2 separate regions of the Homo sapiens genome follow, and region 1 is linked to region 2. A link means that fine-mapping ties the variant in region 2 to the expression of a gene that starts in the linked region. Tissue or cell type: whole blood. Region 2 holds a variant in brackets; the other region holds the start of a gene. All regions are shown on one strand. Distances are between the middles of the regions.

The links. PIP is the estimated chance that this variant, and not a neighbour inherited with it, causes the effect.
Region 1: it holds the start of EPS15, and the variant in region 2 is fine-mapped to the expression of EPS15 in whole blood (INTERVAL, PIP 0.97).

The regions. Positions count from the first base shown.
Region 1 is chr1:51,515,797-51,523,901 of GRCh38, reverse strand. EPS15 (epidermal growth factor receptor pathway substrate 15) reads left to right here and starts at 4,636. Exons shown (of 25, transcript NM_001981.3): 1 at 4,636-4,703. The coding sequence starts at 4,671. It overlaps EPS15-AS1 (EPS15 antisense RNA 1), which reads right to left and starts at 5,630. Exons shown (of 5, transcript NR_183651.1): 1 at 5,456-5,630. It also overlaps a transcript of OSBPL9 not described here. RefSeq lists silencers at 4,413-4,602, 4,753-5,222 and an enhancer at 4,453-5,381.
Region 2 is chr1:51,471,562-51,479,666 of GRCh38, reverse strand. It overlaps EPS15 (epidermal growth factor receptor pathway substrate 15), which reads left to right. Exons shown (of 25, transcript NM_001981.3): 3 at 6,719-6,808; 4 at 7,930-7,977. Among named protein-coding and RNA genes, the nearest start is that of EPS15-AS1, 43 kb to the left of the region's middle. The variant A/G (reference allele first, on the strand shown) is at 3,828.

The DNA.
Region 1 (8,105 bases), 44 kb before region 2:
CTAGATGCTGACTTCACAGACACGCAGTGTTCATGAAGCGTTGATATGACAACTGCCTCTAAAAGCTAGAAAATAAGAAAATAAAAGTAGTTTTGATTTCCTTTAAGGATGGGTTGGGGAGGGGGGTTGGAGTTAGAGTAGGATAGAAAGATGATTGGTGACAAAGCTGTTTATGATTTAAGGTCTTCTCTTTAGGCTCATCCTGGATTTAGGGCTATCGTAAATCCAGAGCCTCATCTTCAGCTTCCCATGTTCAAGGGCAAAATTTTAACAAGTCTTCCTGGGTGGTGATTAATGTCTGCAGGACACCAGCAACACACCCCAGGAAAAAGCGCATTTGAATCAGAAGACCCGTGTATAATTGTGTATAATTCCCAGCTTTGTCATTATGAATTTGGACAAATTCTTCTTCTGTTAAAAAAAAAAGATTAAAAATAACCCTTGTAGAGCTGTTTTGAGGAATAAATGAAATAATGCACATTAAAGCAGCAATTTGTCTGGGTGCGGTGGCTCACACCTATAATCCCAGCACTTTGGGAGGCTGAGGCAGGAGGATGACTTGAGCCCAGGAGTTGAAGACCAGCCTAGGCAACATAGCAAGACACTGTCTCAAATAAAATAAATAAATAAATAAAACAAAAAAAAGAAAACAGCAATTGTTGGTTATTAGTATTCAGATTTAAGTCATCAGATACAACTTTGTTTACCTAGGGAACATCTACTTTTTCAATGACAGGGATATGTCAGTTGTTCAAAGCACCCTTATTCTTATTTATTTATTTATTTTTATTTGATTGATTTTAAAAAAATAGAGACGAGGTCTCACTATGTTGCCCAGGCTGGTCTTGAACTCCTGGGCTCATGCAATCCTCCTGCCTCGGCCTTCCAGAGTGCTAAAATTACAAATGTGAGCCACCTGGTCTGGTCTGGCAGACCCATTCATGTAACTAATATATCTGTCAAACCAACTTAGTTGTTGGAGGGTTGCCTGAAGGGTAGAGAGTTAAATGGTGATCTTGAAGAATGGTATCTTATAGCTGCTACTTATTGAACATCTATTCCAGGCCAGTCTCTCTGATAGGCCATTATACATGAGCTCTAATCCTTAAACCATCCATACAAAGTAGATATTATTATCTTCAATGTAATCATGAGGAAAATGAGGCTTAGTGACCCAGAGACATTAAGTTGTCCTAGAAAAAACAGATAAATTCTTCTTGTCTGCTCCATGCAACTCATTCTTGTTATAATGAATTAGATTATAACATATATTCGATTGGCTACATTTTTCCTCTCCTAAAATAGATTTGGGATATGACCCAGTGCTCTGACGAGATCTGGGCCACACATTTGCAAATTGTCATTGGTTTGTCATTAAAACAAACAAACAAACAAACAAACAAAAACACCTCTCTCAGAAGTTCTAGGCCTTTTTTGGGAATTTGGCCCATTATTCTCTTCCCTATAGACATGCTCCCATCTCCCATTACATGTCATTAATTTAAACCAGAACCTACGAATGAAGAAAGAAGCCACTACAAATTACTAGTGGTCTGGAAGGGGACGTGGGGCAATTCCCATATAAAGATTTTAAGCAAGTCTTCCCTTGCTAGGGCATCTGATTCTTTTTATTTTTTGTTAACCAAGACCCAAGCCTGCTGTCAATGGCTCTTACTTATAGAAGCTATTTATAAAATAAATTTATAAAATATTTGTTCCTTGATTTTCTTATGGGGATAAAGTGAAGATCCAAATAACAATTATATATGAGATTGTATTCAGTTCAATTCAACAAACTTTTATAATGTACTTACTGAACATTAGAAGTTGTGCTTCTAAACATTTGGCCGGGCACGGTGGCTCACGCCTGTAATCCCAGCACTTTGGGAAGCCGAGGCAGGCAGATCACTTGAGGTCAGGAGTTCGAGACCAGCCTGGCCAACACGGTGAAACCCTGTCTCTACTAGAAAAAAAAAAATTAGCTGGTGTGGTGGCGGGTGCCTGTAATCCTAGCTACTCAGGAGGCTGAGGCACAAGAATCGCTTGAACCCAGGAGGTGGAGGTTGCAGTGAGCCGAGATTGCACCGTTGCACTCCAGCCTGGGTGACAGAGTGAGACCTTGTCTCAAAAAAATAAAAATAAAATAAAAACATTTATAAACGGTGAAAAGCAATACTGTATACATACAAGGTGTTATTTATTTATTAGAGATGGGGTCTCTCTATGTTGCTCAGGCTGAATTCGTGCTCTGTGCAACTGCCTCAGTCTCCTGTGTAGCTGGGACTATAGGCATGTGCCACCATGCCTGGGTAAGGTGTGCTTTTGACTTAATATAAATCATATAAAAGTTAAAACAGTAATAATTCCTTACTTTTCCTGTATGAGAAACTGAAGCTCAAAGAGGTTAAATGGTTTGCCTGCGGTCACACTCTGATTCTTAATATTCTCTTTGCTACTCTGCACTGCCTTTCCGGAAACTACATGGCAGGGTTTCCACCTTATTCATCTGAGAGGAATATCTTACATCTCATATGGTTTGGAGGAGTCCCCTTGAATAGCAAGTGAAATTATACTCCCCAAAGCGATTTGCTCCATGATTTTCAGATTTCATAATTTGTGTAGCTACAAGTTTAGGCACTTTTGTATATGTCATCTCATTCATCCTCACAACAACCCTAAGGGCATACAACTAGTGAATGGGAGAGCCAGGAATGGAACCTGGATATTCCTAATGTCTGAGTCCTATTTATTTCACTATACTATGCTGCTTTGTCTATCAGTTGTATAACCCTGGGCAAATCACTTAGCCTCTGTGACCCTGCATTACCTCATTTGTAAAGTGAGTATGACGATTACTTCCTTTTAGAGTTGTGAAGCTCAAATGTGCTAATATAAAGTAGAAAACACCGGTAGAAACACCGGTTGTGGTTATGGCTGATAAGTGTACCAAAGTGAAGTAATGTAAAACAGTATCTCTTATTCTCTCTTCAGTTAAAGAGATTAGCAGCAAAAAAGAAGCCAAGGAAGATGCTCTTGAATAAGTGGTTACTCACCAGACCTATATGGCTTGCTCTTGTTAGCTGGCCTTTGCCAGAAGGAGTCTGAGTAGAATTAGGAGTTCCTTGGGAAATTTCTGGAATGGTTTGCTTGTGGAGGCAATAGTCTAAAAACTTAGGTGGGGCTAACTCCATCCTGGGTCTTGTTCAGTTGTCCCTCCTACCACGGGGACTGCTATGATAATGGTAATGGGTGTAGGCCTGATAGAGTTGTGGTTTGTTGTAATGGGAAGCCATCGTGACTAAGAAATTAAGACCAATTCGGGCAAATACATTTATTGAGGCCTCTGTGGTAGGCTAAACTATGAGGGAGATAAAGCAGTGAGTCAGCCCCTTGTCCTCAAGGATTTTACAGTGCAGTGAGGTGGAGACAAACCCTCAACTAACGCTTACAGATAAGGCAGAGTATAAAAACGGTCACATCAGAACAACTTAGAGGTGGGGTGTGGAGTTCCTAGAAGGCTTCTTGAAGTAGGTGGTATATACTCTGAGACTTTGAAGATGAATTTCAAGTAACTGGGTATTCCAACTGAAGGTTGGCAGCATCAGAAGGTGTAGGATGTGTTATGTTTAATATAGGCAGGAACGAAGGCCTTTACTGAGCATGCACTGTAATGCTAGGGTCTGACGATATAGAAATATATTGAAAACAGTTCTTGCCATTGAGGAGCTCTTAATCTAGAGGGATAGATAGGTGTAAACTGTCATTAGGGTGATGACTTCACAAGGTAGAGAAGAAAGGTTATAAAGGAGAGTGTGTAACTCTGACATAAGGAAGAGAAAAAGATACTTTGCAAAGGAGGTGAAACTTGAATTATGTCCTGAGAAAGAAGGAGGAGTTTGCTAAGTGGATGATGGGAGAAGCTAGGAGTGCTACAGGCACCAGCGTTCCCTTGTTAAACAATCTAAATGTGACAGGCACCAGGCAAATACATTTTTGCTTCCCCTTTCCAAATGGATTTTGGCTGTGGGAGGGAATGACTTAATGTCTTCTTTTCCAATATACTAGCAGATGGTTAAATATTTACAGTTAGACTTGGATTCTAATTCAGCTATATAATTAGCTGTATGACCTTAGTAAGACACTTATTTGTGTTTCAGTTCCTTCATTCATACAATTCAAAAAATAAGAGTCTAGTACAGAGCCTGGCATATATAAAGTGCCATTATTATTTTCTATCATTATCTCATTTAGTCTTTGTAAGTAACTGGGCCTCTAGTTACAATTTCCCCCATTTTTCAGAAGCAGGAGCTCAGCGTAGGTAGGTGGCCTGTCTGAAGTTCACAGGTCAATCTGCAGTCGCCTCCGCAGCCCGTCCGCTTTAATTTTATGTCCGCGCCGGGTTTTCCAAGGCGGCCCCGGGGGCAGGCTCTGGTCCGGTGGCCGAGACTCCGGCGCCAGGGTTTGGGCGGCGCCGCGGCCGGCTCCGGCGGGCGGGCAGGCGGGCGGGGCCAGGCGGGGCGGGGCGGGCGTGGGGAGGGAAGTTGTGGAAGTTAGGGGAGACGCCCGCCCGCCCGCCCCGGCCTCGCCTGCGGCCGCTCCCTCCGCCTCCTCCCCGCCCCGAGCCCCAGTCAGCCCGTCTTCCTTCCCCTCCCTTGCATGATGGAAACACCATGGCTGCGGCGGCCCAGCTCTCTCTGACACAGGTAACGCCACACGCCCGTCCGCCGGGCTTGGCCGGCCGGTGCCCCCTCCCCCACCGCCCTCAGCTTCGCCGACTTCTTGGCTTGTGGGCCAAGCAGGCAGCTTCTTGGCTTGTGGGCCGGGCGGCCGGTGTGTGTGAGGGAAAGCGGGTGCGACTGCGGGAGGGCGCCCTCCGGAGCCGGAGCCCCCCTGCGGCCGCCGCGACCTCGCCCAGGGTCGTCGGGCGCCTCCTGCCCCGCCCCGCGCGGCCCTCGCCGCCCTCCGCGCCGCTGCCGAGTGGACTGTGACCCGGCCGCGCTCTGCCGGTGCCGGGCCGGCTCCCGCGGGGCAGCTTTCACCTACCCAGGAAGTTTCCTCCCACAGGGCCGCACGCATCCCAGGTGAGCTCCTGTTGAGCTCGCGCGGGCCGGCCGCACCCCCGGGCCGCACGAGGCTCGCCCGCCAGGCCGGCTGCGCGCCGCCCCCAGTAGGAGTTGCCTTCCAGAGCCGGACGCGCAGGCCCCCCAAGCCAGTCTTTCCTCTCCAGACCTGCCTTTCTCCCAGGGTCCGACGGAAGCCCTCCCTTCCCAGAGTTTAATGTAGTTAGCCTCGCCTCCAAAGAAGTCTCATCCTACTCAACTACCCACTCTGCCGGCCCCTTCCTCCGTTCAGCCTCTCCCCCCTCCTGATCAGGTTTCCTTCTGGGTCAGACCCCCAATGCAGCCTTTTGCCACCCACGTCTGCTTCCACTTCAACTTCCCCTCGGGGGGCTCACGCCTGATCGCTGTCCAGGTGGATCCCTTTAACGGGTGTGGTGGCTCCGCCAGTCTTGGTGCCAGGAACGGCCTCCCGGGGAGCACTTTTCTTGGGGGGAATCCTCAGCAAAACCTGTTCTCGAGCTTCCCTCTTGCCTCGTTGCTTCCTGTCAAAGTCCAGTCCTTGTGCTTCTCAGAAAACCTCTAAACATCACTCACACTGGGAACCTGGTCCCTCCCTCTCTGTAAAGAAGCCAATTACAATGTAAACATGGTGTCCGGGATGATAAGGTGACAGACACCTGCCAGTTCCTTCCTGCTCCTGTGACCCAAACTCTCCCCCGCGTCTCCTCAGACGGTTCTCTCCAGAGCTGGTGGCGCGTGCTTCCCGATTGGGGCCCATCCCGTCTTCCTTGCCTGCATTGTGGTATCTCACTGCCATCTTGTACTCCTTGGCCTAGATTCGTCGGTGCTTCTAAGGCTTTAGCGCTGGGATAGGGCAAACATTTCGGCAGTGGAGTTTTCTGTGTTTAAAATCAAGAGGCTTTGGGGTGCTTTGCCTAGCACTGTAGGATAGAGAGAAAAAAATGTTTTCTCAGAAACCAGGAGTCACGTACATGCTTCATGTAAAATAACTAACCCGTGTTTGCAGGAATTCTAAGTGTCATAAGGAAAGTCTATTTCCCAGTTTTTTTGATGGTGGTGGTGGTTGTCCTGTTCTGACAAGCAGAGAACCCTTTAACATGGAATGTGGTGGTTTAGTCTTGGTTATGTATGTTTGGAAGGGTCCTCCCAAAACTCAAATTTGAACAACTACAGCACTGACTTTTAGGTATTCACTTTCTGTGAGTCTAGTTAGTGACTTGCATTAAACAAGATCCCTGTTGGCAGGCTGTTGTTTTCTGGCTCTGTTGGCCAATTCTGGCAGGAGTTTTCCCTTGAAGATTTTGTGCTCTTAAAGACTTCCGTAAAATTGCTTCTCAGTTGTGTGCATACTTTATTCTCTCCCTGGGTAATACCATGTTTTTAGCTTCTATTTACATCATTCATCTCTGGAGAATTGCTTCAAGCTCTGTCAGTTTTATAGCCATTTAAAAAATTTACATATGTTCTTGGGTTATATATTTAGGTATTAATGTGTACACAGTAAGTACGGAATCAGTAGTAGCTATTATCCTTCAGTGCCTCACATATGAGATAATATACATTGGTGGTTAATTTTTATTGATAATTCAAATAAGTAAATTCAGAATATTCTGATTTTAAAACATGAAGAGGCAATAAGAGGGATTACGAAGGCACACGAAAAAATAACATTTCCAGTTGCTAGTATACCCTAATGTGCCTCCTTGTTACTTCAAAACTTTGCAGATTTGTGGTTTTTAAATTTAATTTAATTTTTTTATAACTGCCTGAGCCCAATACACTAAGATAACAATGCAGCCTGGTTTCACATTCATTACTGACCCGTTTGTCATCCTCTGTTCCCCCCACCCTGCCCACTCTCCCAGCACACACATTTAGACATAGGCATACTCAAGTGAGAGCTCATTCAGGGCAGGGACATCTTTTAATCCATCTTTCTCCCATGGTACCTATCTGGAAGAAAGTAATTAATAACTGTTGTAGGAATGACTGAAAGCTCTAAAGGGTTCTATAACAGTTATGGAGATTAAACATGCTCAAGTTAATTTCTGCTTCTGTTCATATGTTGATGATTTTCATTCAGCAAATATTTTTATAGTACCTATTATGTACTAGACATTGTACTGGGATTATCGTGTTTATAATTTCTTGCCTTTACCAATTAAGCAAAACTGAGTTTGGGGAAAAAATGTGAAAAATGTTTTAGCTTATGCCTTCCTTCCTTTTTCCAAGCTTGCCAACCAACCCTTCAACTCCCCAGCCACCAAAATAAATTATCTAAATTATTATAGTCTAGCTTCTAGAGATGATAGAATGCTAGAGTACCAAAATGTTAGTTCCAGTTCTGCTTTGGCCACAGCTAACTGTATGGGTTTGGGTTAAATATCCAGGCCTCAGTTTTCTTAACTTTAAAAGAGACTCAACAAACATTTGCTGAGCATTCAGTATGTGCTAGGAATTACTCTAGGTACTGAGGATATATATACTCATGAACAAAAATAGTTAACAATTCTTTGACCTTGGAGACAAAACCTGGAACTTATTTCTGCTAGAGGAGTTTGAATTAGCTGATCTAAGGACCTTTCCAACTTTTAAGATCCTGTTTTATAGACAGTGTTCTATGATTTATAGACCTAGTGGACTTTCTCTGGGTTCTTTAGTGCTTTACAGCCTTAAATGTTTTCTAATTCAGTTGTCTTTACTAGGTGTTCTGTTTACTTCTTGTCAATGAGAAGTAAAACCTGAGGGAGAAAGATCTTGATTTTTGCTTCTGTTGGTAGATTAGAAAAAAAGCATGTAATACTTAAAAAAAAAAAGTTTCCAATAGTCAGTTTTACTCCCTAACGCCCATATCCCTAATAATAATAATACTGTTAACTTCCCTTTGGGAATTACTATATGCCAGGAATTTTACTACACTTAGAATCTAACGATATGTTTTACAAATTAGAGAAGCTAGTAAGTAAGCTAGTAAGTGGTGAATCTACGATTTGAACCAAGGTCTGTAGGACTTCAAAAGCTATT
Region 2 (8,105 bases):
CTATATTGCTATAAAGAGTAAAAACATTCCATACAAGTATTTGTTTTTGAATTCTGAGGAGTCAGTGAGAATCAGATACTATTGATGGGGAGAAACCAGAGCAGAAAAGCTGAAAATTCTAAAAATCAGAGCACCTCTTCTCCTCCAAAGGAACAGAGCTCCTCGCCAGCAATGGAACAAAGCTGGATGGAGAATGACTTTGACAAGCTGACAGAACTAGGCTTCAGACGATCAGTAATAACAAACTTCTCTGAGCTAAAGGAGGATGTTCGAACCCATTGCAAAGAAGCTAAAATCCTTGAAAAAAGATTAGACGAATGGCTAATTAGAATAAACAGCGTAGAGAAGACCTTACATGACCTGATGGAGCTGAAAACCATGGCACGAGAACTACGTGACGCAAGCACAAGCTTCAGTAGCCAATTCGATCAAGTGGAAGAAAAGGTATCAGTGGTTGAAGCTCGAATGAAATGAAGCGAGAAGAGAAGTTTAGAGAAAAAAGAGTAAAAGGAAACGAACAAAGCCTCCAAGAAATATGGGACTATGTAAAAAGACCAAATCTACGTCTGATTGGTGTACCTGAAAGTGATGGGGAGAACGGAACCAAGTTGGAAAACACTCTTCAGGATATTATCCAGGAGAACTTACCCAACCTAGCAAGGCAGGCCAACATTCAAATTCAGGAAATATAGAGAATGCCACAAAGATACTCCTCGAGAAGAGCAACTCCAAGACCACATAATTGTCAGATTCACCAAAGTTGAAATGAAGGAAAAAATGTTAAGAGCAGCCAGAGAGAAAGGTCGCGTTACCCACAAAGGGAAGCCCATCAGACTAACAGCTGATCTCTTGGCAGAAACTCTACCAGCCAGAAGAGAGTGGGGGCCAATGTTCAACATTCTTAAAGAAAAGAATTTTCAACCCAGAATTTCATATCCAGCCAAACTAAGCTTCATAAGTGAAGGAGAAATAAAATACTTTACAGACAAGCAAATGCTGAGAGATTTTGTCACCACCAGGCCTGCCTTACAAGAGCTCCTGAAGGAAGCACTAAACATGGAAAGGAACAACCGGTACCAGCCACTGCAAAAACATGCCAAATTGTAAAGACCATCAAGGTTAGGAAGAAACTGCATCAACTAACAAGCGAAACAACCAGCTAACATCATAATGACAGGATCAAATTCACACATAACAATATTAACCTTAAATGTAAATGGGCTAAATGCTCCAATTAAAAGACACAGACTGGCAAACTGGATAAAGAGGCAAGACCCATCAGTGTGCTGTATTCAGGAGACCCATCTCATGTGCAGAGACACACATAGGCTCAAAATAAAGGGATGGATGAAGATCTACCAAGCAAATGGAAAACAAAAAAAAAGCAGGGGTTGCAATCCTAGTGTCTGATAAAACAGACTTTAAACCAACAAAGATCAAAAGAGACAAAGAAGGCCATTACATAATGGTAAAGGGATCAATTCAACAAGGAGAGCTAACTATCCTAAATATATATACACCCAATACAGGAGCACCCAGATTCATAAAGCAAGTCCTTAGAGACCTACAAAGAGACTTAGACTCCCACACAGTAATAATGGGAGACTTTAACACCACACTGTCAACATTAGTCAGATCAGTGAGACAGACAGTTAACAAGGATATCCAGGAATTGAACTCAGCTCTGCACCAACCGGACCTAATAGACCTCTACAGAACTCTCCACCCCAAATCAACAGAATATACATTATTTTCAGCACCACACCACACCTATTCCAAAATTGACCACATAGTTGGAAGTAAAGCACTCCTCAGCAAATGTAAAAGAACAGAAATTATAACAAACTGTCTCTCAGACCACAGTGCAATCAAACTAGAATTCAGGATTAAGAAACTCACTCAAAACCACTCAACTACATGGCAACTGAACAACCTGCTCCTGAATGACTACTGGGTACATAATGAAATGAAGGCAGAAATAAAGATGTTCTTTGAAACCAACGAGAACAAAGACACAACATACCAGAACCTCTGGGACACATTCAAAGCAGTGTGTAGAGGAAAGTTTATAGCACTAAATGCCCACAAGAGAAAGCAGGAAAGATCTAAAATTGACAACCTAACATCACAATTAAAAGAACTAGAGAAGCAAGAGCCAGCACATTCAAAAGCTAGCAGAAGGCAAGAAATAACTAAGATGAGAGCAGAACTGAAGGAAATAGAGACACAAAAAACCCTTCAAAAAATCAGGGAATCCAGAAGCTGGTTTTTTGAAAAGATCAACAAAATTGATAGACCACTAGCAAAACTAATAAAGAAGCAGAGAGAGAAGAATCAAATAGACACAATAAAAAATGATAAAGGGGATACCACCACCGATCCCACAGAAATACAAACTACCATCAGAGACTACTATAAACACCTCTATGCAAATAAACTAGAAAATCTAGAAGAAATGGATAAATTCCTGGACACTACACCCTCCCAAGACTAAACCAGGAAGAAGTTGTATCTCTGAATAGACCAATAACAGGCTCTGAAATTGAGGCGATAATTAATAGCTTACCAACCAAAAAAAGTCCAGGACCAGATGGATTCACAACCGAATTCTACCAGAGGTACAAAGAGGAGCTGGTACCATTCTTTCTGAAACTATTCCAATCAATAGAAAAAGAGGGAATCCTCCCTAACTCATTTTATGAGGCCAGCATCATCCTGATACCAAAACCTGGCAGAGACACAACAAAAAAAGAGAATTTTAGACCAATATCCCTGATGAACATCCATGCAAAAATCCTCAATAAAATACTGGCAAACCGAATCCAGCAGCACATCATAAAGCTTATCCACCATGATCAAATGGGTTTCATCCCTGGGATGCAAGGCTGGTTCAACATATGCAATCAATAAACATAATCCAGCATATAAATGGAACCAATGAGAAATAACTAAGATCAGAGCAGAACTGAAGAAAATAGAGACACAAAAAACCCTTCAAAAAATCAATGAATCCAGGAGCTGGTTTTTTGAAAAGATCAACAAAATTGATAGACCGCTAGCAAGACTAATAAAGAAGAAAAGAGAGAAGGATCAAATAGACGCAATAAAAAATGATAAAGGGAATATCACCACTGATCCCACAGAAATACAAAATACCATCAGAGACTACTATAAACACCTCTATGCAAATAAACTAGAAAATCTAGAAGAAATGGGTAAATTCCTCAACACATACACGCTCCCAAGAGGGTGAAGGACCTCTTCAAGGAGAAGTATAAGCCACTGCTCAGCGAAATAAAAGAGGACACAAACAAATGGAAGAACATTCCATACTCATGGATAGGAAGAATCAATATCATGAAAATGGCCATACTGCCCAAGGTAATTTAGATTCAGTGCCATCCCCATCAAGCTACCAATGACTTTCTTCACAGAATTGGAAAAAAACTACTTTAAAGTTCATATGGAACCAAAAATGGTTCCACATTGGCTCAAAAATGAGCCCACATTGCCAAGACAATCCTAAGCAAAAAGAACAAAGCTGGAGGCATTACACTACCTGACTTCAAACTATGCTACAAGGCTGCAGTAACCAAAACAGCATGGGACTAGTACCAAAACAGAGATATAGACCAATGGAACAGAGCAGAGCCCTCAGAAATAATACCACACATCTACAGTCATCTGATCTTTGACAAACCTGACAAAAACAAGAAATGGGGAAAGGATTCCCTATTTAATAAATGGTGCTGGGAAAACTGGCTAGCCATATGTAGAAAGCTGAAACTGGATCCGTTCCTTACACCTTCTACAAAAATTATTTCAAG[A/G]TGGATTAAAGACTTAAATGTTAGACCTAAAACCCATAAAAACCCTAGAAGAAAACCTAGGCAATACCATTCAGGCCATAGGCATGGGCAAGAACTTCATGACTAAAACACCAACAGCAATGGCAACAAAAGTCAAAATTGATAAATGGTATCTAATTAAACTAGAGAGCTTCCACACAGCAAAAGAAACTACAATCAGAGTGAACAGGCAACCTACAGGATGGGAGAAAATTTTTACAATCTACCCATCTGACAAAGGGCTAATATCCAGAATCTACAAAGAACTTAGACAAATTTACCAGAAGAAATCAAACAACCCCATCAAAAAGTAGGCGAAGGATATGAACAGACACTTCTCAAAAGAAGATATTTATGCAGCCAACAGGCACGTGAAAAAATGCTTGTCATCACTGGTCATCAGAGAAATGCAAATAAAACCCACAGTGAGATACCATCTCACACCAGTTAGAATGGCGATCATTAAAAAGTCAGGAAACAGATGTTAGAGAGGATGTGGAGAAATAGGAACACTTTTACACTGTTGATGGGAGTGTAAACTAATTCAACCATTGTGGAAGACAGTGTGGCGATTCCTCAAGGATCTAGAACTAGAAATACCATTTGACCCAGCCGTCCCATTACTGAGTATATACCCAAAGGATTATAAATCATGCTGCTATAAAGACACATGCACACATATGTTTATTGCGGCACTATTCACAGTAGCAAAGACTTGGAACCAACCCAAATGTCCATCAATGATAGACTGGATTAAGAAAATGTGGCACTTATACAACATGGAATACTATGCAGCCATAAAGAAGGATGAGTTCATGTCCTTTGTAGGGATGTGGATGAAGCTGGAAACCATCATTCTGAGCAAACTATCGCAAGGACAAAAAACCAAACACCGCATGTTCTCACTCATAGGTGGGAATTGAACAATGAAAACACTTGGACACAGGGTGGGGAACATCACACACCGTGGCCTTTTGTGGGTTGGGGGGAGGGGGGAGGGATAGCATTAGGAGATATACCTAATGTAAATGACGAGTTAATGGGTGCAGCACACCAGCATGGCACATGTATACATATGTAACAAACCTGCATGTTGTGCACATGTACCCTAGAACTTAAAGTATAATAATAATAATAATAAAAAAAGAAAACTATTTCATTTGGTTTACAAAAGCAGAGGCTACTAAGTTGAGGGTCTCAGAAAGGGCTTATGCACATAGCTATTAGAAAATAGAACATTAAAATAATACCAACAGTATTCCAAGTAAATAACTATAATTAAATTTTCCTCAACAGTTCATTCAGTCCTGTGTAATTCTTGTTCAGCTGAATCTCGGATTAGAAGTCTGCTTTTATGAAGTACATCTTCTTTCAGACTGAAAAGAGTCCTGGAAATCCTGACTTCATCTACCAATATGGTCTGAAAGTAGTGTGATGTCAGCTGAGTAGTCTTTATCCAAAAATCCACTTTTTGAAATGTTAATAATTCAGACTATGTATGTCTTATAGATACAGACTATATCAAAAGTATAGTCATTTTCATGAGGCTCTAAGACTCTTTGTTGAAGATATATCAGCTTCTGGCCTATAGCTTCTGGCTTTGCCTATGGCAGAGCCTTTAGGCAAGCAGCAGAATACCTCAGAAACTGCCTGTAGATGACAAAGACTAAATGTTTATATTATTAGGGTAACCAAAAGAATGGAAGATAGTAAAATTCTTAATTGGGATACAGTACATAATGATTTCATAAGAGTTTGATCAATGTTTCCCCTGAATGCTTCTATATTTAGTAGGCTGTGTTGGGTATGGATATTTGTTTTGTATGCTGATCAGGAAGTAGGCAAAGAAAAGGAGTTCTGAAGAATTCTACAGGCAGGTTTCCCAATCCTTATACTTCCTCTTATTCCAAATTTGAAGGATTAGGCCATGTTTTTCTTTTTTGCTGAGTGCATGATTTTTCCCATGTTGTACCACTTGAAAGAAAGGTTTTCCCTTTTGCTTCTTTGCTAGGATTGGACTGTCTAGAATGCTTTGTACAGTATATGTTTACAGTAAACTTAATCTTTTAACTAAACTGGAAAAACAGATATCTCACAAATATACTATTATCCTGTTACCTTTCCCATGACTTTTTAAAATGTACTTTTCATTTTTACAAATGGAACTTTAGGAAATCTTTACAAAAATGAGTCTTTTTTTTCCTGTTTTTGTTGTTGTTGTTGTTTGTTTGTTTGTTTGTTTCTGTTCTTGTGACCTCATTCTGTCTTAAAGGAAAGTCCCTGGTCAGTTAAAATGGTATGTTCCCTAATATGTTTTAGGAACTTAACAGCTTTAAAAAGGTTTCTTCAAGTTTATTTTGGAATCACTGCTGGTTTTAGAGCTGCTATTGCTTTGATTTGTTTTAAAGTGCTGCAGTTCCTAAGAGTAGGTATAAAAGTGAAAGTTGATGATTGAAAGATGTTTGAAGAGGCACATAACATGTGCAACTATTCCCATTTGTCAGAAGACCTCTGTAGGAAATGCTGCTCCTTTCTTCCTAGTGCCATTTAATTGGAATTTAAATGACAGCTATAGAAGATATGTGTTGATGTTACAACCCCACGAATTTGCTTTGACAATCCTCTGAGCTTCACTTTTCTCATTTGTATGGTAGGGCATGATAAAACAAAAACCACTTTGTAAATTGCCAGTGCTGTCTAGATAGTACTACTCATATGTCTGTCCACATATTCTTTGGCCCATGGTAGTCAAAGGATTCTCATTCCTTTCTTGCAAAAGCCAGGTCCCAAATCACAGGGATGGAAGGCAGGTAAATGGTGATAATTTTGCCTTTTGTATTTTGTTGTCAACTTACGGATTTGTATCTTTTCAGGTTGATACAGGCAATACTGGAAGGGTGTTGGCTTCTGATGCTGCTGCTTTCCTGAAAAAATCAGGGCTTCCAGACTTGATACTTGGAAAGGTAGTATTCGTTCATTATAACTAGATTATAAGTTTGTAAGGAATGTGTACTATAGATGAACTGGATGCAAATTTAGAAAGATGCCATCAAGAAATTTAGAAGTTAGAACCGAGTCATAGAAGCCATTTTAATAGTAGGATGAAGGGAATTTGTAGCGTAGTGATTTACCCTCTTGAAAAGTAAGGTGTTTTTCAGATTTTTAGAAACAAACTACTTTTTAATAGGATAAAATGAGGAAGTAATAAGTACATTTGGTGGGGAGAAACAGTGAAGACTGGGAATCTTGCCACACACTCAAAGACTTGGCTCTATCCCTACTTCCTCTGTTATAACTGTCTCTGTTTAATGTGTGGTAAATAGACTGGGGGATGAGAGGCTTTTTAAAAAGAGCACAAAGAGGTGGAAAGCCCCTCCCCTGTCTACTCCTTATATGTGATATTGATATATATTCAGAATCCTGAAAAATAATCACAATAATTTAATTATTCACAAATATCAATCATCTCAACTTGCACATAGAAAAGAATATCTTAAGGATCCAAAATCAAGAATAGTATGTACATTCTAGTAGAAAGAGCATTGGTCTCAGAGTTAGAACTTGGATTAATGAAAAAGGCATGTGACTGGAAGTTAGAACTTAGGCTTCACTTCTTTCCCTGGTGCCTTGAATGTTCTTGAGCTAAGTCACTTACCCTCATTGGGCCTTAGTATCTTTGTGAAGGGTTGCACTAAATCAGGGGTGCCCAATCTTTTGGCTTCCGTGGGCCACATTGAAAGAAGAAGAATTGTCTTGGGCCACACATAAAATACATTAACACTAATGATAGCTGATGATCAAAAAAAAAAAAAATCATAAAAGAACCCTCATAATTTCTTAAAGAAAGTTTATGGATTTGTGTTGGGCCACGTGCAAAGCTGTCCTGGGCTGCATGTGGCCTGTGGGCTGCAAGTTGGACAAGTTTGCACTAAATGATCTTTAAGGGTTCTTTCCACTCTTAATTCTATGATTCTTAGATCTGATTACCAGAGAGCCTGAGGTTGTAAATAGCAGAGATTTAATTTATCATTCAGATGACTTTTGTTTAAAATATACATTGATATTTTTTCCCCCTAAATTTCAGATTTGGGATTTAGCCGACACAGATGGCAAAGGTATCCTGAACAAACAAGTAAGTTTCAGATATTCATATGATTTTTTTTTTGAGTGATTCAAAATAAAAAATAGCCAGCAGGGTTTTCTTGTATTTTGAAGCCAAGAATTGGTTTTTACCAACATTAGAGTTTTGCCTAGGGCAAG